2 separate regions of the Homo sapiens genome follow, and region 2 is linked to region 1. Evidence: fine-mapped expression QTL. A gene starts in region 1. The other region holds a variant in brackets. All regions are shown on one strand. Distances are from middle to middle.

Region 1 (11,070 bases):
AAACTACAAAAAATTAGCCAGGAGATCGAGACCATCCTGGATAACACGGTGAAACCCCATCTCTACTAAAACTACAAAAAATTAGCCAGGCGTGGTGGTGGGCACCTGTAGTCCCAGCTATTCAGGAGGCTGAGGCAGGAGAATGGCGTGAACCCAGGAGGCGGAGCTTGCAGTGAGCAGAGATCGAGCCACTGTACCCCAGCCTGGGCGACTGAGTGAAAAGAAAGAAAGGAGAGAGAGAAAGAGAGAGAAAGAAAAGAAAAGAAAGAGAGAGAGAAAGAAAGAAAGAAAGAAAGAAAGAAAGAAAGAAAGAAAGAAAGAAAGAAAGAAAGAAAGAAAGAAGGAAAGAAAGAAAAAGAAAAAAGAACACGAAAAGCTTGTAATATTGGCATTTACACTCAAGGCTAATGATATTTCAACTATAATGCTGAAAATAATAAGAATTTTAGTCACTGAATTAAACGTCAGGGATCCATCTGGGCGCCATGGCTCACGTCTGTAATCCCTGCACTTTGGGAGGCCGAGGCGGGTAGGTCATTTGAGGTCAGGAGTTCAAGACCAGCCTGGCCAACGTTGTGAAACCCCGTCGCTACTAAAACTATAAAAATTAGCCGGGTGTGGTGGTGGGTGCCTGTAATCCCAGCTACTTGGGAGGCTGAGGCAGGAGAATCACTTGAACCTGGGAAATGGAGGTTGCAGTGAGCTGAGATCACGCCACAGCACTCCAGCCTGGGCAACAGTGCGAGACTCAGTCTCAATAAATAAATAAATAAATAAATAAATAAATAAATAAATAAACGTCAGGGATCCTTAAATACCATAGTTAAAAGATACACCAAATAATGTGACATTCACCAGTCAAAAATACGTGCACTAGCTGCTCATGCCTCCCAGCAGTTTGGGAGGCTGTGGTGGGAGGATCACTTGAGCTCAGGAGTTCAAAATCAGACTGGGCAACATAAGAGACCCCTTCTCTACAAAAAAAAAAATTTTAATTAAAAAATGCACTAACAATCATTGATGAGACTTGTCTACAGATCTATTATTATCTTTTCAGAATACTCTGTCTTCAAAATCAAAATGAAAAAATATTTCAGAAGAATACACAGAAGAAATGCCATGATTAGGAAATCAGTCTTAAATACTAAACGAAAGAAACTGAAGAAGTTTTCATATTTACAGAGTTTAATTTTTTTCCTTTGCCTTCATTAAAAAAAAAAAAAAAAAGGCCTGGCACGGTGGCTCACGCCTGTAATCCCAGCACTTTGGGAGGCCAAGGCGGGCGGATCACGAGGTCAGGAGATCGAGACCATCCTGGCTAACCCAGTGAAACCCCGTCTCTACTAAAAATACAAAAAATTAGCCGGGCGTGGTGGCGGGAGCCCGTAGTCCCAGCTACTCAGGAGGCTGAGGCAGGAGAATGGCGTGAACGCGGGAGGCAGAGCTTGCAGAGAGCCGAGATCGCGCCACTGCACTCCAGCCTGGGCGACAGAGGGAGACTCCGTCTCAAAAAATAAAATAAAATACAAATAAAAATAAAAAAGGCCGGGCGCGGTGGCTCACGCCTGTAATCCCAGCACTCTGGGAGGCCAAGACGGGTGGATCACGAGGTCAGCAGATGGACACCATCCTGGCTAACACGGTGAAACCCCGTCTCTACTAAAAAAATATTTTAAAAAATTAGCCAGGTGTGTGGCAGGCGCCTGTAATCGCAGCTACTGAGGAGGCTGAGGCAGGAGAATGGCAAGCCCGGGAGGCGGAGCTTGCAGTGAGCTGAGATTGCGCCACTGCACTCCAGCCTGGGCACAGAGCGAAACTCTGTCTCAAAAAAAAAAAAAAAAAGAAAACAGGCCGGGTGCGGTGGCTCACGCCTGTAATCCCAGCACTTTCGGAGACCAAGGCCGGAGGATTATTTGAGGTCAGAAGTTCGAGACCAGCCTGACCAACATGGTGAAACCCCGTCTCTACTAAAATACAAAAATTAGCCAGCCGTAGTGGTGGGTGTCTATAATCTCAGCTACTCGGGAGGCTGAGGCAGGACAGTCACTTGAACCCAGGAGGCGGAGGTTGCAGCAAGCCAAGATCGCGCCACTGCACTCCAGCCTGGGCAACAGACCGAGACTCCCTCTGGAAAAAAATAAAAAGAAACAAAAAAAAAAAAAAGTTTTTTTTCCAATGAGGTTCTAGCAGGTTAGTAAAGTTATCTGCTGTGCAATGACAGCGATGGTCACTCACTAAAGAAACATTAAGTTTAGCATTTCTGTAATTATAATGACTCTTATTATTGCAACACACAGTAGCTATTTAATAAACACCATGAATTAATAGAACTAGAAACAAAAATTTAATAAAATTTCACTTATAGTAAGTTAATGCGGACAATGTAATTCTTTTAAGACTTGACACATTTCACATTCTTTGCCATAATACGTAAACTTTTTTTTTTTTTTTGAGTCGGAGTCTCGCTCTGTTGCCCAGGCTGGAGTGCAATGCAGCGATCTAGGCTCACTGCTACCTCCGCCTCCCAGGTTCAAGCCATTCTCCTGCCTCGGCCACCCGAGTAGCTGGGATTACAGGCGCCTGCCACCACGCCCGGCTGGCTTTTTAGTAGAGAAAGGGTTTCAACATGTTGGTCAGGCTGGTCTTGAACTCTTGACCTCGTGATCCGCCCGCCTCGGCCTCCCAAAGTGCTGGGATTTCAGACGTGAGCCACAGCGCCCGGCCAATACGGAAACTTTTAGTTTAGGTTGGGACATTAACTAGAAAGAACTATATATCACTAAAGACTAAGTATCTTGTTTTTCCCACCATCAAATCTGACAAAATTAAAAAGGAAAACATCCATCATATCTATTCAAATTCTCAAATGCTAATAACTGAAGAGACAAAGCACTAACGAGTAAAGTTAGAACAGAATATACGTAATACTTAACTAAATTACCAAATCTGGTTTCGCAACACTGCATGGTGACTAAAAGTAACAATTTTTTTTTCAGTTTAACATAAAACGTATTTTTATGCCCAACCATACTTTTAAGACGCTAGTCTGGAAACAATTACATTTGGCAACAAAGGTCAAAGATCACTGATATAGCTCAAATAAATGAACCTGACGTTCCACAAGAAAGACTGGGGCGGTTCCTGAGGCCCAGGTGGACTGTATAGGTAAGCCTCCACCCAAGAAACAAAAAAGGCGGATAAACATACCTGGAGAAGACCAGACAAGGCCAAAGATATCCCCAAAGATCACTCACCTCTGGTCTAGTCTCCACCTTTTCTCCCCAATCTCATTGCCTCAGGGAGAACTAAATCTACACCGCACGTCCCCAGCTCACCCTCAACTCCCCACCACTCACCTTCTTTACTAAAATCTGGGTCCCCCTCCCTGACATCCTCTAGTTCCCACCGAGTTCTCAGTCCAGCCCGATAGATGTCTACTATGCCTGTCTTCCAGTAGGGTATTAGTCTCCTTAATCCGAACTCATTTTTCCGCATCCCACTTCCCCTCCGCCCCTTCAACTCCGGTCCCCTCACTCCGACCCTTCTCCCAGAATCCTCCCCGAATCGCGGATCTCCGGCCACTTTTCCCTCCCACCTCCTAGCTCCGGCGCCCTTCACCTCGCTCGGCCCCCCATCCCGTTTCCCAGTCTCCCAGTACCAGCCCCCCTCCCCCAACTCCGCCCCTCTTCCCCCTCCCCCAGAGGGAGGCCCCCCTCACCTGAATGCCGCTGCTGCCGCCGTCTCAGAAGCCGAAAGGTGCTGGCACCGGCCGGCCTCCCAGGCTCGGTCCCCGCTGAGCTCCCGACAGCCCCTAGGGAGAGCGAACGCCACCACCTCCAACTCTGCCCGCTCCGGGCCAGGCCGTCACCGTAGCCACCGCCAGTGCCGCAGCCGCCATGTTGAAGTCCTACTTCCCTCCTCCTTCCCCTCACCGCCCCACTCATTTGGGCGTCTGACGTCATGGCGCCGCGCTCCACACGCCCGGACCAATGGGAGGAGCCGACGGTGACATAACTAATCTCTCTTCTAGCGAGGAGCTACTCCGGCAACATGGAGCATTGCAATTGGAATGAGTAAACCCTGCTGACCTAAGGGGGAAGGAGGAAAGGAGGGGGTCACTAAGAGTGTAAGACTTGGGTTTGGCGAGGCGGCCAAAGCGGGAAACCCAAGAGCCTTGAATCGCGAAGGTATGCCCAAAGAGTTAGCAGCGAGTCCTATTTGGGAATTAAGACATCTAGCTTCTGTTCAGGGTCAGCGACCTGGTACAACTCATACCCTTTCTGGACCTCACTTTTCCCATGTATAGAGGACTAAGTTGAAAGGTGACTTCTAGGCCGGGCGCAGTGGCTCACGCCTGTAACTCCAGCACTTTGAGAGGCCGAGGCAGGAGGGTCGCTTGAGCCCGGGAGGTCGAGGCTGCGGTAGCCGTGATCGCGCCACTGCACTCCAGGTGGGCAACGGAACGCGACTCTGTATCAAAAGAAAAAAAAACAAAGGTGACCTCTAAGTCTTCCTTCAATTCTGACATTCTATGGGTTTAAACCAGGTAATCCTATCCCAAGCCTTCACTGCCTTCTGTGGGGGTTTTTGTTGTTGTTGTTGTTTCTGTTTGGGGTGTTTTTTGTTTTTTTGAGACAGGGTCTCGCTCTGTCGCCTAGGCTGGAGTGCAGTGGCGCGATGTTGGCGCACTGCAACCCTGCAACCTCCACCTGTCGGGCTCAAGTGATCCTCCCACCTCAGCCTTCTGAGTAGCTTGGACTATAGCCACATGCCAACACGCCCGGATAATTTTTATTATTTTATATATATATATGGAGAGACGGGGTCTCACCATGTTGCCCAGGCTGGTGGTAAACTTCTGGGCTCAAGCCTCAGTCTCCCAAATTGCTGGGATTGTAGGCGTGAGCCATGGCGCTGGCCTTCTGTGTCTTTCTATGTCTGCTGGAATTAGGAGACAGAGAATTATTAATTGAATAAGATGACTCTTGAGCCCAGGAGTTCAAGACCAATTTAAGCAACATGAGACCCCCGTCTCTACAAAAAGTTTGGTAAAAATTAGGTGAGCCTGGGCAACATAGTGAGACCTTGTCTCTACAAAAACTCAAATTATCTGGGCGTGGTGGCATGTGCCTGTGGTCCTAACTATTCAGGAGGCTGAGATAGGAGGATCACTTGAGCCTGAGAGGTCGAGGCTACAGTGAGCCAGGATTGTGCTGGTGTACTCCAAACATGGGTGACAGAGCAAGATCTTGTCGCAATAAAATAAAATAAAATAAAATGACTAGGCACGATGGCTAACGCCTGTAATCCCAGCACTTTGGGAGGCCAAGATGGTCAGATCTCTTGAGCTCAGGAGTTTGAGACCAGCCTGGGCAACGTGGAGAATCTTCATCTCTAACAACAACAAAAAACAGTTGGGCATGGTGGTACACGACTGTAGTCCCAGCTATTGGGTTCTGCAAATGAGACCCTGTCTAAAAATAAAATAAAATTGTAAAAAATTAGCCAGACATGGTTGTACACATCTGTGGTCCCAGCTAGTCAGGAGGCTGAGGTGAGAAAATGGCCTCAGCCTGGGAGGTTAAGGCTGCTGTGAGCAATGATCATGCCATTGCACTCTAGCCTGGGCAACAGAGCAAGACTCTGTCTCAAAAAAAAAAAAAAAAAAAAAACAAGGTCGGGTGTGGTGGCTCACGCCTGTAATCCCAGAACTCTGGGAGGCTGAGGCAGGCAGATCATCTGAGGTCAGGAGTTTAAGACCAGCCTACCCAACATGGTGAAACCCCATCTCTACTAAAAATACAAAATAAAAATTAGCTAGGTGGGCGCCTGTAATCCCAGCTATGTGGGAGGCTGAGGCATGAGAATCGCTTGAACCCAAGAGGAGGAGGTTACAGTGAGCGAGATCAAGCCACTGCACTCCAGCCTGGGTGACAAAGCCAGACCCTGTCTCAAAAAAAAAAAAAAAAAAAAAAGTCTGGGCGCAGTGGCTCATGCCTATAATCCCAGGACTTTGGGAGGCCAAGGCAGGTGGATAACCTGAGGTGAGGAGTTCGAGAGCAGCCTGGCCAACATGGTGAAACCCCATCTCTACTAAAAATTCAAAAATTAGCTGGGCGTGATGGTGGCAGCTGTAATCCTAGCTATTCAAGAGGCTGAGGCAGAAGAATCACTTGAACCTGGGAGGTGGAGGTTGCAGTGAGGTGAGGTTGCGCCACGTCACTCCAGCCTAGGTGACAGAGCAACACTCTGTCTCAGAAAAAAAAAAAAGGCCAGGCACAGTGGCTCATGCCTGTAATCCCAGCACTTTGGGAGGCCGAGGCGGGCAGATCACATGAGGTCAGGAGTTCAAGACCAGCCTGACCAGCATGGAGAAACCCCGTCTCTACTAAAAATACAAAAAAAATTAGCTAGGTGTGGTGGCAAATGCCTGTAATCCCAGCTACTTGGGAGGCTGAGGCAGGAGAATTGCTTGAGCCCAGGAGGCAGAGATTGCGGTTAGCTGAGATCACACCATTGCACTCCAGCCTGGGCAACGAGAGCAAAACTCCATTCAAAAAAAAAAAAAAAAAAAAAAGAAATGGAAAAGAAGTGGAGGCATTTACCTAGAAAAACAAATACCTCTTAACCTTCCTAGGAGTGATTCATACTTGTCAGTTTCTAGGTGTGAATCCCAGTGTTGACTCACCTGGGGCCAGAAGAGGCTGAATAGGATGCCAGTCCTCTGTTTCCCCTACCCTGTATCTTTCCCTCTCAGTGCACGTAGACAGTGGCCAGCATACCTGCTGGCCTGCCAACAGCAATAGAGAAAAAAGGGGCACCAACCTGCACCCTCCCTCTTTCTGTCTTCTTTCTCCCTCCCTTTATACACCAGGCATTTACAATGTCTAAGAACAGAGACAGAAAAGACAGACAACCACCTCTACAATATTTCATTCATTTAGCCATCCAGTACTAATTAAGTCCTACCATGTGCCAGGCACCACAAGTCTGCAAAGATGCTCTCAAGGCAGCCCAGTGAGGGAAGCAGATAAGTGTCCAGATAATGATGGCACCTGACAGAAAATAAACTGAGTCCGGCCGGGCGTGGTGGATCACACCTGTAATCCCAGCACTTTGGGAGGCTGAGGCAGGCGTATCATGAGGTCAGGAGATCGAGACCATCCTGGCTAACACGGTGAAACCCGTTTCTACTAAAAATACAAAAAGTTAGCCAGGTGTGGTAGCACACACCTGTAGTCCCAGCTACTTGGGAGGCTGAGGCAGGAGAATCGCTTGAACCCGGGAGGCGGAGGTTGCAGTGAGCAGAGATCACGCCACTGCACTCCAGCCTGGGTGACAGAGCAACACTCTGTCTCAAAAAAAAAAAATAAAGAAAGAAAATAAACTGAGTCCTTTAAGTAGCACAATCCATGCCTGAGGAGTAGAGAGGAGAGGGAATTCAGGTACACTTGAGAAATTCGGAGATTTCATGGCAAATTGAAGCATTTAAGTTAGGCCTTAAAGGCCAGATAGAATGAAGGGTGCCTAAAGTAGTCTGGGCAAAGGCATGGATGCAAGAAATTTCCAGGAATGTTCAGGATCAGTAAGTAGAGCAAAGGGTATATGTAGAGGAGCAGAAGGTGGTAAGTTTGGAGAAACCAGGAAGGAAGAGGCTTGGCTTGGGTTTAACCGTTCTAAGTCTGTAAGAAAAAGTCACTGGCATCCTTGGCAAAGACATCTTTTCTCCTGGGAAAATCAAGGGAAAAGTTAGGATGAATCCTTAGAACCTTGAAGATCAGATTGAAACCTTTTGCCCTTCCCCAGAAACTCATAGTTACAACGAAGGACTCAGATATCTGGGTAACCTCTGAGGCTTCTCTCAATTCTAAGAACGATGTGATGACCATCATATAAAGATGCAATTATCCTGATGACCATGATATAGATAATTTTCCATTCCACCAGATGAATACACAAACACAAAAAGGTACAATAAAATATTAAAAGAGAATATAGAAGAATATTTTCTGAGTTATGGGATGGAAAGAACTTGTCTAATCATAACACCAAATGCAGAAGCCATGAAGGAAATAGTTGACAGATTTGATGATGGCAAAAGACCCCAAACACAAAGTGAAAAGATAAACTGGAAGAAAATATTTGTAACCTATATAACAGAAAAAGTTAGTTTTCCCAGTATACAAATAATTTTACAAATCAGTGTGAAAAATGGAATGATTCAATTAAAAAAAAGTGTGTATAGTTTGCAAGAGGCAATTAGCCAAAGAAGAAATACAAATAGCTAGTGAACGTATGAGAAAATGGTCAATATCACTGATAATTTTTTTTTTTTTTTGAGACAGAGTCTCACTTTGTCGCCCAGGCTGGAGTGCAAAGGCACAATCTCGGCTCACTACAACCTCTGCCTCCTGGGTTCAAGCGATTCTCCTGCCTCAGCCTCCTGAATAGCTGGGATTACAGGCATGCACCACCACATTCGGCTAGTTTTTGTATTTTTAGTAGAGATGGGGTTTCACCATGTTGTTCAGGCTGGTCTCAAACTCCCGACCTCATGATCCTCCCCACCTCGGCCTCCTAAAGTGCTGGGATTACAGGCGTGAGCCACCGCACCGGGCTGATAATGTTTAAAAATGAAACAAGGCTCTAATTTTTACCTAACAAATTGGCAAAAGCTGAAAAGATCAAGTATATCCAATGCTGGGTCTGATGCAGTGGCTCATGCCTATAATCTCAGCACTTTGGGAGGCTGAGGCGGGAGTGAGGCCAGGAGTTTGAGTCCATCCTGGGCAACAGGCCTTGTTCTGTCACCCAGGCTGGAGTGCAGTGGTGCAATCATAGATCACTGCAGCTTCGAACTTCTGGACTTAAGGGATCGTCCCGCCTCAGCCTCCCGGATAGCTGGGACTGGCAGGTACATGCCACCATACCTGGCTAATTTTTATTTTATTTTATTTTATTTAAGTTTTGTTTGTTTGTGTTGTTTTCTTTTGAAATGTAGTCTCGCTCTGTCATCCAGGCTGGAGTGCAGTGACACAATCTCGGCTCACTGCAACCTCTGCCTCCCGGGTTCAAATGATTCCCCTGCCTCAGGCTTCCAAGTAGCTGGGATTACAGGCATGTGCCACCATGCACCGCTTTTTTTTTATATTTTTGGTAGAGATGGGATTTCTCCATGTTGGCTAGGCTGGTCTTGAACTCCTGGCCTCAAGTGATCCACCTCCCACCCCTCCTGAAGTGCTGAGATTATAGGTATGAGCCAGCGCACCCAGCTTGTGGTTTTTTTTTTTTTTTTTGAGACAGGGTTTCAGTCTTCTGTCACCCAGGCTGGAGTGCAGTGGCGTGATCTCAGCTCACTGCAACCTCTGCCTCCCAGGCTCAAGAGATCCTCCCACCTCCATCTCCAGAGTAGCTGGGACCACAAGCACATACCACCATGCCTGACCAATTTTGTGTATTTTTGGTAGAGACAGGGTTTCACCATGTTGCCCAGGCTGGTCTCAAACTCCTGAGCTCAAGCAATCTGCCAGCCTCGGCTTACCAAAGTGCTAAGACTATGGGCATGAGCCATGGCACCCAGCCATTTTTTTTTCTTTTTTGTAGAGTCAGGATCTCGCTATATTGACCAGGCTGGTCTCAAACTCTTGGCCCCAAGTGATCCTGCTGCCGTGGCCTCCCAAAGTGCTGGAATTCCATGCACGAGCTACCATGCTCAGCCCCCCATCTTAATTGATTAAAAAAAATTATTTAATAAAAAAGTATATCCAGCCGGGCATGGTGGCTCACACCTGTAATCCCAGCACTTTGGGAGGCCAAGGCGGGTGGACCACCTGAGGTTGGGAGTTCGAGATCAGCCTGGCCAACATGGCAAAATCCTGTGTCTACTAAAAATACAAAAATTAGCCGGCGTAGTGGTGTGCACCTGTAATCCCAGCATTTGGGAGGCTGAGGCAGGAGAATCGCTTGAACCCAGGAGGCAGAGGTTGCAGTGAGCCAAGATAGCACCACTGCACTCCAGCCTGGGCGACAGAGCAAGACTTTGTCTCAAAAAAATAAATAAATAAAGTGTATCCAATGGTGCATAGATGGATAAACTTTTTTTTTTTTTTTTTTAAAGAAACAGTCTCTCTATGGTGCACAGGCTGGTCTCAAGCTCCTGGTCTCAAGCAATCCTCCCACCTTGACCTCCCAAAGTGCTGGGATTAGGCATGAGCCACCGTGTCTAGCAAAATAAGCATTCTCATACACTGCTGACAACAGTATAAATTGGTAGAATCTTTTCGTGGAGCAATTTGGCAGTAACTATCGCAGTTACAGCAGTATATTGTGGAGTAAAAAGCAAGTTGCAGAATAATGCATATGGTATTTATTTTTGCAAAAAAAAAATGTGTAGAGATAATCTATATATGTGTGTATGTATATATATGTGTATATATGTGTGTATATATATGTGTGTGTGTATATGTGTATATATATGTGTGTGTATATATAAGCATGGATGAAAAACTGAAAGGACACACACTAAATTATTATTTGTGGCTGTGGAGGAAATAGGATTTGGCTGGAGTGGGGCGGGCAGCAGAACTTGGGACTAAAGAAGGAGGGGCGGCCAGGCGCAGTGGCTCACGCCTGTAATTCCAGCACTTTGGGAGGCTGACTTTGGGAGGCCGACTTTGGGAGGCCAAGGTGGGCAGATCACTTGAGGTCAGGAGTTCGAGACCAGCTTGGCCAAAACCCGTCTCTACCAAAAATACAAAAAAAAAAAAAATTAGCCAGGCCTGGTGGCGCGCACCTCTAATCCCAGCTACTCAGGAGGCTGAGACAGGAGAAAAGCTTGAACCCGGGAGATGAAAGTTGCAGTAAGCTGAGATCATGCTGCTGCACTCCAGCCTGGGCGACAGAGCGACACTCTGTCTCAAAAAAAAAAAAAAAAAAAAAAAGGAGAAGAAGAAGGGGAAGTGGAAACCACACAGAAGCGATGCAGCCACTGCTGGGAAATGCCCCATAGCCGGAAGAGGAAGAACTGCCCTGGCTTCTTCTTCCTCTCACCTCCAGTCTTCTTCCAGTGCC
Region 2 (8,000 bases), 39 kb before region 1:
GAGGGGAGAAGGGAGGGGAGGGGAGGGGAGAGGGGGGAGGTGGGAAGGGAGAGGGGAGGGGAAGGGAGAGGGAAGGGGGAGGGGAAGGGAGAGGGAAGGGGGAGGGGAAGGGGAAGGGAGAGGGAAGGGGGAGGGGAGAGGGGAAAGTGGAGATGGGAAAGGGGAGAGGAGAAGGGAGGGGAGAGGGGAGGGGAGGGGAGGGGAAGGGGGAGGGGGAGGGGAGGGGAAGGGAGGGGAGAGGAGAGGAGAGGAAAGGAGGGGAGGGGAGGGAGACAAGACAAAACTCAATGTTCACAGGGGCATTTTTTTCAGATTAGGGATGCTGAACCAATAAGTATGAGGCAAAAAGTTAGAAAATCTGAAATCTGAAACACTTCTGGTGCCAAGGATTTAGATGAGGGATACTCAACTTGTACATAAAAAATATTTACAATGGTTGCCTCCAAGTAATAGGACTGGAAATAATTCATAAAATATTTGTATTTCTGAACGTTATATGGTAACATCTATTAATTTGGTAGTTTCTTTTAAAACTTTTCTTGAAAAGTTTCTGTTTTCAGCCAGGCGTGGTGACTTACACATGTAATCCCACATTTTGGAAGGCTGAGGCAGGTGGATTACTTGAGCCCAGGAGTTCGAAGACCAGCCTGGGCAACATGGTGAAACCTCATCTCTACAAAGATACAAAAAATTTGCCGGTGTGGTGTTGCATGCCTGTAGTCCCTGCTACTCGGGAGGCTGAGGTAGGAGAATCACCTGAGCCCAGGAAGTCAAGGCTGCAGTGACCAGTGATTGTGCCACTGCACTCCAGCCTAGGCGACACAGCAAGATCCTGTTACCAAAAAGAAAAAAAAAAAGTTTCCATTTTTCAGCATGGTGTAGAGATAGAGTGTATTCTGTTTGATATTGTAGTTCATGGAGAATTAAATTTATAAAGTGTATGTATTATCAATTTTCAAAGAACCAGCAAACCATACTGAAAATGATTTAACCTTTTTATATGTGCAGAAAACATTCACAGGCATCTTGCTGTCACCCAGGCTGGAGTGCAGTGGCACAATCTTTATTGCAACCTCTGCCTCCCAGGTTCAAACAATTCTCATGCCTCAGCTTCCCTGAGTAGCTGGGATTACAGGAGTGTGCCATCACACCCGGCTAATTATTTTGTATTTTTAGTAGAAACGGGGTTTTGCCATGTTGGATAGGCTGGTCTTAAACTCCTGGGCTCAAGTGATCCACTCACCCCAGCCTCCCAAAGTGCTGCAATTACAGGCATGAGCCACTGCACCCGGTCTCACAGTGAGACTTCTAAAACCCAGAAGCAAGACTCTTAGCAGCCTCAACCTTCCCACGTAGGCACATACCAGAAATCTGTTTTCCTAAATTGGGAAAGTAGCGGTATCTAAACTTCCAGCAATGAGTTGTGAATATGCTCACAGACATATGCAGAAAATTAGTGTTTCATTTCTATAACCACAATAAAAATTGTGTGATATCAGCTGTTTGAAGAAGCAACTGTTGTTGAGGTAAAGAACTTGAGAGAGGCTGAGTCTTTGATTTAATAAATAATTTTCCAAACAACACCTAGAATATGCTGACACCAGGAATGTTATAAAGAAGTTCCACCAAAATTTAAATGGATGTGCTTGGCTTTTTTTTTTTTTTTTTTTTTTTTTTTTTTTTTTTTTTTTTTTTGAGATGGAGTCTCGCTCTGTCACCAGGCTGGAGTGCAGTGGCATGATCTCGGCTCACTGCAACCACCGCCTCCCGGGTTCAAGCCATTCTCCTGCCTCAGCCTCCGGAGTAGCTGGGACTACAGGCCCCCGCCACCACGCCTGGCTAATTTTTTGTATTTTTAGTAGAGACGGGGTTTCACCATGTTGGCCAGGATAATCTGGATCTCTTGACCTTGTGATCCACCCGCCTCGGCCTCCCAAAGTGCTGGGATCACAGACGCGAGCTACTGCACCCAGCCAGATGCTTGGCTTTTTTAAAAGGCTCAACTGTTCACCATAAAAAAATGAATGAAATCCAGCATGAGAATCACTTGAGGCTGGGAGACGGAGGTTGCAGTGAGCCGAGATGGTGCCACTGCACTCCAGCCTGGGCAACTCAGCAAGACTGTCTGTCTCAAAAAAAAAAAAAAAAAAAAAAAAAAAAAAGAACGAAATCCTGTCATTTATGACAATGTGAATGAATCTGCAGGACTTTGTGTTAACTGAAACAAGCCAGACACAGAAAGACAAATTTTGTATGATCTTACTCATACAGAATATAAAAAAGTTTATCTCATAAAGGCAGAGGCTTTTTTTTTTGTTACTCAGGTAACAAACCGCACATGTGCCCCCGAATCAAAATAAAAGTTGAAAAAACAAAAATTAAAAAAATTAAAAAAACCACCACCGCCACCAGCCAGGCACGGTGGCTCACGACTGTAATCTTAGAACTTTGAGAAGCCGAAGAAGGCAGATCACCTGAGGTCAGGAATTCGAGACCAGCCTGGCCAACATGGTGAAACCCAGTATCTACAAAAATACAAAAATTAGCCGGGCATGGTGGCACATGCCTGTAGTCTCAACTACTTGGGAGGCTGAGGCAGAAGAATCACTTGAACCCAGGAGGCAGAGGCTGCAGTGAGCTGAGATCATGCCACTGCACTCCAGCTTGGGCAACAGAGATTCTGTCTCAAAACAGTAACAACAATCACCTATGCTATCTGCCTAGGGCCATTCACAGGATGGTAAATCAGATGACTCCATTCTCTGACTGACCAAGGCTGATGGCATCCTCTCAAAGAACTTCTGACTGTGGAGAATCACAGATGTGGAATATTTATCATAAATAAATAGCAAACACCCTTCCCAAAAGAGTAGAGAGTATAATAGTAATTACCAGAGGCCGGAGAGGTGGGGAGGGTAGTAAAGGGAAGGGCAGGGAGTGGGATGGGGAGAAGTTGATGAATGATTAAAGTTACCATCACATAGGAAGAATAAGTTCTGGTATTCTATTGTACAGTAAGGTGACTACAGTTAACAATAATATATTCTATATTTCAAAATTAACTAGAGCTCAGGAGTTTGAGACCACCCTGGGTAATATGGCCAAACCCCATCTCTACTAAACATACAAACATTAGCCGAGCATGGTGGTACGCACCTGTAGTCCCAGCTACTTGGGAGGCTGAGGTGGGAGGATGGCTTGAGCCCAGGAGGCAAAGGTTGCCGTGAGCCATGATTAAGCCACTGCACTCCAGCTTGGGCAAGAGAGCCAGTCTCAAAAAAAAAAAAAAAAAAAAAAAAAAAATTAGCATGGTGTGGTGGTGCATGCCTGTAGTCCCAGCTAATCAGGTTCACTTGAGTCCAGGTGGTAAAAGGCTGCAGTGAGCTATGATCGCACCACTGCACTGCAGCCTGGGCAACAGAGTGAGACCCCAGCTCTAAAAAAAATTTAAAATAAAAAAAAGAAGACATAAAAGTTCACAAATATTGTGTGATGCCATTCATATGAGGTGTCCAGAAAGGGAAAATCCAAAGAGACTGAAAGCAGACTGGCGGTTGCCTGGGTCTGGGAAAGAGAAACTGTGTAGTTGGTAAGGGTCTCCTTTGGAGTGAAGGAAAGGTTTCAGAACCAGATATGGTGATTACACAACACTATGAGAGTACTAAATGCCACTAAATTGATCATTTTAACATGGTTAATTTCATGCTATGTGAATTTCACCTCAGTAAGTTTTTTTTTAAATTAAATTACAAAAAAAAAAATGGCAGAAAAAAATTGGCAGCAGAGAGGTGCTCCAGAGGAGAGGGCCAGAAAGACGCGTGTCAATAACTTCCAAGTTTGAAAATCAGAGAGGCAATGAGGCAGTGAACAACTAGATAGAAGACCACAAGGAATAGTAAATGAAAAATAAAATACAGTTCTCTTTATTAGTAAATAATGTAAAATTTTTTAAATCATGCCTCAATAGAGCTGATAAAATATTTTTTTCCCATATTATATATTATTTTCCACAGTCCTTAAGAATATGAGAAATCTATATTTGGGCACATAAAGATTTTTCTAAGGTCCACTATGCAGCAAAACTTCAGTCTCTCAAAGCTCAAAGGCATTTTAATACCTATTTAGGGTCAGTTTTCTTCCCCCAGAACATCTTTTATATATATGTACATACATGTATGTGTGTGTGTGTGTGTACATATATATATGTACACACGTTTCACCAATAACTTCCTATACTTTTTTAAACCCTTTTTTTATTATTTATTTTTCCATAAGTTATTGGGGTACAGGTGGTATTCAGTTACATAAGTTCCTTAGTGGTGATTTGTGAGATTTCGGTGCACCCATCACCCGAGCAGTATACGCTGCACCCTATTTGTGGTCTTTTATCCCTCACCCCCCTCCAACCCTTCCCCCCAGGTCACCAAAGTCCACTGTATCATTCTTATGCCTTTGCGTCCTCATAGCTTAGCTTTCACCTATCAGTGAGAACATTAGATGTTTGGTTTTCCATTCCTGAGTTACTTTACTTAGAACAGTCTCCAATCTCATCCAAGTCACTGCAAATGCTAATTCATTCCTTTTTACAGCTGAGCAGTATTCCATCATATATATATATATATGACACATATATACATACTTATATACATATATATACACACACACACACTATCATATATACATATATACACACAGCAGTTTATCCATTC[G/A]TTGATAGGCATTTGGGTTGCTTCCATGATTTTACACTTGTGAATTGTGCTGCTATAAACATACATGTGCAAGCATCTTTTTCAAATGACTTCTTTTCCTCTGGGTAGATATCCAGTAGTGGGACTGCTGGATCAAATGGTAGTTCTACTCTTAGTTCTTTAAGGAATCTCCACACTGTTTTCCAGAGTGGCTGTACTAGTTTACATTCCCACAGCAGTGTAAATGTGTTGCCTGATCACTGCATCCACGCCAACATCTACTGTTTTTTTATTTTTTTATTATGGCCATTCTTGCAGGAGTAAGGTGGTATCACATTGTGGTTTTGATGTGCACTTCCCTGATCATTAGTGATGTTGGGCATTTTTCATGTTTGTTGGCCATCTGTATATCCTCTTTTGAGAACTGTCTATTCATGTCCTTAGCCCACTTTTTGATGGGATTGTTTTTTTCTTACTGAGTTGGTTGTAGATTCTGGATATCAGTCCTTTGTCAGATGTATACATTATGAAGATTTTCTCCCACTCTGTGGGTTGTCTGTTTACTCTGCTGACTATTCCTTTTACTGTGCAAAAGCTCTTTAGCTTAATTGGGTCCCAGCTATTTATCTTTGTTTTTATTGCATTTGCTTTTGGGTTCTTGGTCATGAAATCCTCGCCTAAGCCAATGTCTAGAAGGGTTTTTCCAATGATACCTTCTAGAATTTTTTATAGCTTCAGGTCGTTAAGTCCTTAATCTATCTTGTATAGGATCCAGTTTCATTGTCCTACATATGGCCAGCCAATTATCCCAGTGCTATTGTTAAAAAGGGTATCCTTTCCCCACTTTATGTTTTTGTTTGCTTTGTCGAAGATCAATTGGCTGTAAGTATTTGGGTTTATTTCTGGGTTCTCTATTCTGTTCCATTGGTCTGTGTGCCTATTTTTATACCAGTACCGTGCTGTTTTGGTGACTATGGCCTTATAGTATAGTTTGAAATCAGGTAGTGTGATGCCTCCAGATTTGTTCTCTTTGCTTAGTCTTGCTTTGGCTATGCAGGTTCTTTTTTTGTTCCATATGAATTTTAGAAATGTTGTTTCTAATTCTGTGAAGAATGATGGTGGTATTTTGATGGGGATTACATTGAATTTGTAGATTGCTTTTGGCAGTATGGTCATTTTCACAATATTGATTCTACCCATCCATGAGCATGGGATGTGCTTCCATTTGTTTGTGCCATCTATGATTTCTTTCAGCAGTGTTTTGTAGTTTTCCTTGTAGAGGTCTTTTGACTCCTTAGTTAGGTATATTCCTAAGTATTTTTTTTTTTTGCAGCTGTTGTAAAAGGGGTTGAGTTTTTTATTTGATTCTCTGCTTGGTCACTGTTGGTGTATAGAAGAGCTTCTGATTTGTGTACATTAATCTTGTATCCAGAAACTTTGCTGAATTCTTTTATCAGTTCTAGGAGCTTTCTGGAGGAGGCTTTAGGGTTTTCAAGGTAAACGATCATATTGTCAGCAAACAGTGACAGTTTGACTTCCTCTTTACCAGTTTGGATGCCCTTTCTTTCTTTCCCTTGTCTGAATGTTCTGGCTAGGACTTCCAGTACTATGTTGAAGAGGAGTGGTGAGAACAGGCATCCTTGTCTTGTTCTAGTTCTCACAGGTAATGCTTTCCACTTTTCCCCATTCAGTATTAGGTTGGCTGTAGGTGTGTCATAGATGGTTGGGTTTTTTTGTTTTTGTTTTTGAGACAGAGTCTCGCTCTGTCGCCCATGCTGGAGTGCAATGGTGCGATCTCGGCTCACTGCAACTTCCACCTCCTGGGTTCAAGCGATTCTCCTGTCTCAGTCTCCTGAGTAGCTGGGATTGCAAGCGCCTGCCACCATGCCGAGCTAATTTTTGTATTTTTAGATGAGACGGGGTTTCACCATGTTGGCCAGGCTGGTCTCAAACTCCTGACCTCAGGTAATCCACCTGCCTCGGCCTCCCAAAGTGCTGGGATTACAGGTGTGATGTGAGCCACTGCACCTGGCCCAGAGATGGCTTTCATTACATTGAGGTATGTCCCTCGTATGCTGATTTTGCTGAGAGTTCTAATCATAAAGGGATGCTGGATTTTGTCAAATGCTTTTTCTGCATCTATTGAGATGATCATGTGACTTTTGTTTTTAATTCTGTTTATGTGGTGTATCACATTTATTGACTTAAATATGTTAAACCATCCCTGCATCCCTGGTATGAAACCCACTTGATCATGGTGGATTATCTTTTTGATATGTTGCTAGATTTGGTTAGCTAGTATTTTGTTAAGGATTTTAGCATCTATGTTCATCAAGGATATTAGTCTGTAGTTTTCTTTTTTGGTTATGTCCTTTCCTGGTTTTGGTAGGGTGATGCTGGCTTTATACAATGAATTAGGCATGGTTCCTTCTTTATCTTGTGGAATAGTGTCAGAAGGATTGGTACCAACTCTTCTTTGAATGTCTGGTAGAATTCTGCTGTGAAGCCATCTGGTCCTGGACTTTTTTGTTGGTAATTTTTAAATTACCATTTCAATCTTGCTGCTTGTTATTGGTCTGTTCAGGGTATCCAATTCCTCCTGATTTAAGCTAGGAGGGTTGTATTTTCCCTAAACCCATTTATTTTACAATACTCTCCTATTATCTAAATACTCAATTATGGAAAAATGATTAAATAATGGAAAATCCAGAAGATAACGTTGTGATGGCACTAAGAGTGTCTACTAAAGGCACATAACATAGGAGTAGACATGGAACTAAAAAAATTATTTTATTTTTAAAAAGCATATAATAAATAGAAAATAACTATAAGTGTGTGTGTGTGTGTGTGTGTGTGTGTGTGTGTTTTAATAGAAATGAGGTCTCACTATGTTAACCAGGCTGGTTTTGAACTTCTGAACTCAAGCTATCCTCCTGCCTTGGCCTCCCAAAGTGCTAGGATTACAGGTATAAGCCACCATTCCTGGCCAATAATTATAAATTTTAAAATGTTTTAATAAATTAAATTAAATTGCCTTATGTAAAAAATGTGCACAAAACAAGACTGAAAGAAATGTTTGCCACTAATGTAAAGCTATAATTAATCACAGGGAAAAAAATTTATAATCAATCATAAATTTCCACTAAAATAAGTATATGCTTCTATTAAAGGGAAAGTATCAATCAAAAATAACAATAAAACATATTCTTTTTCTTTTTTAGCTGGTGGTATGGATTGGAACACACATTCATAATTCAAGAACTTTTACACTAATAAAACTTAGAAATCCCAAAACCAACAACTTATCAGTGA

The links. PIP is the estimated chance that this variant, and not a neighbour inherited with it, causes the effect.
Region 2: its variant is the best candidate, but not a certain one, in a credible set for the expression of UBAP1 in whole blood (INTERVAL, PIP 0.73).

The regions. Positions count from the first base shown.
Region 1 is chr9:34,171,889-34,182,958 of GRCh38, reverse strand. It overlaps UBAP1 (ubiquitin associated protein 1), which reads right to left and starts at 3,916. Exons shown (of 7, transcript NM_016525.5): 1 at 3,719-3,916. RefSeq lists enhancers at 1,994-2,951, 2,952-3,908, 3,674-4,103, 3,909-4,867 and a silencer at 6,554-6,848.
Region 2 is chr9:34,211,946-34,219,945 of GRCh38, reverse strand. All of the region lies in intron 1 of UBAP1 (ubiquitin associated protein 1), which reads right to left. Among named protein-coding and RNA genes, the nearest start is that of UBAP1, 37 kb to the right of the region's middle. The variant G/A (reference allele first, on the strand shown) is at 4,710.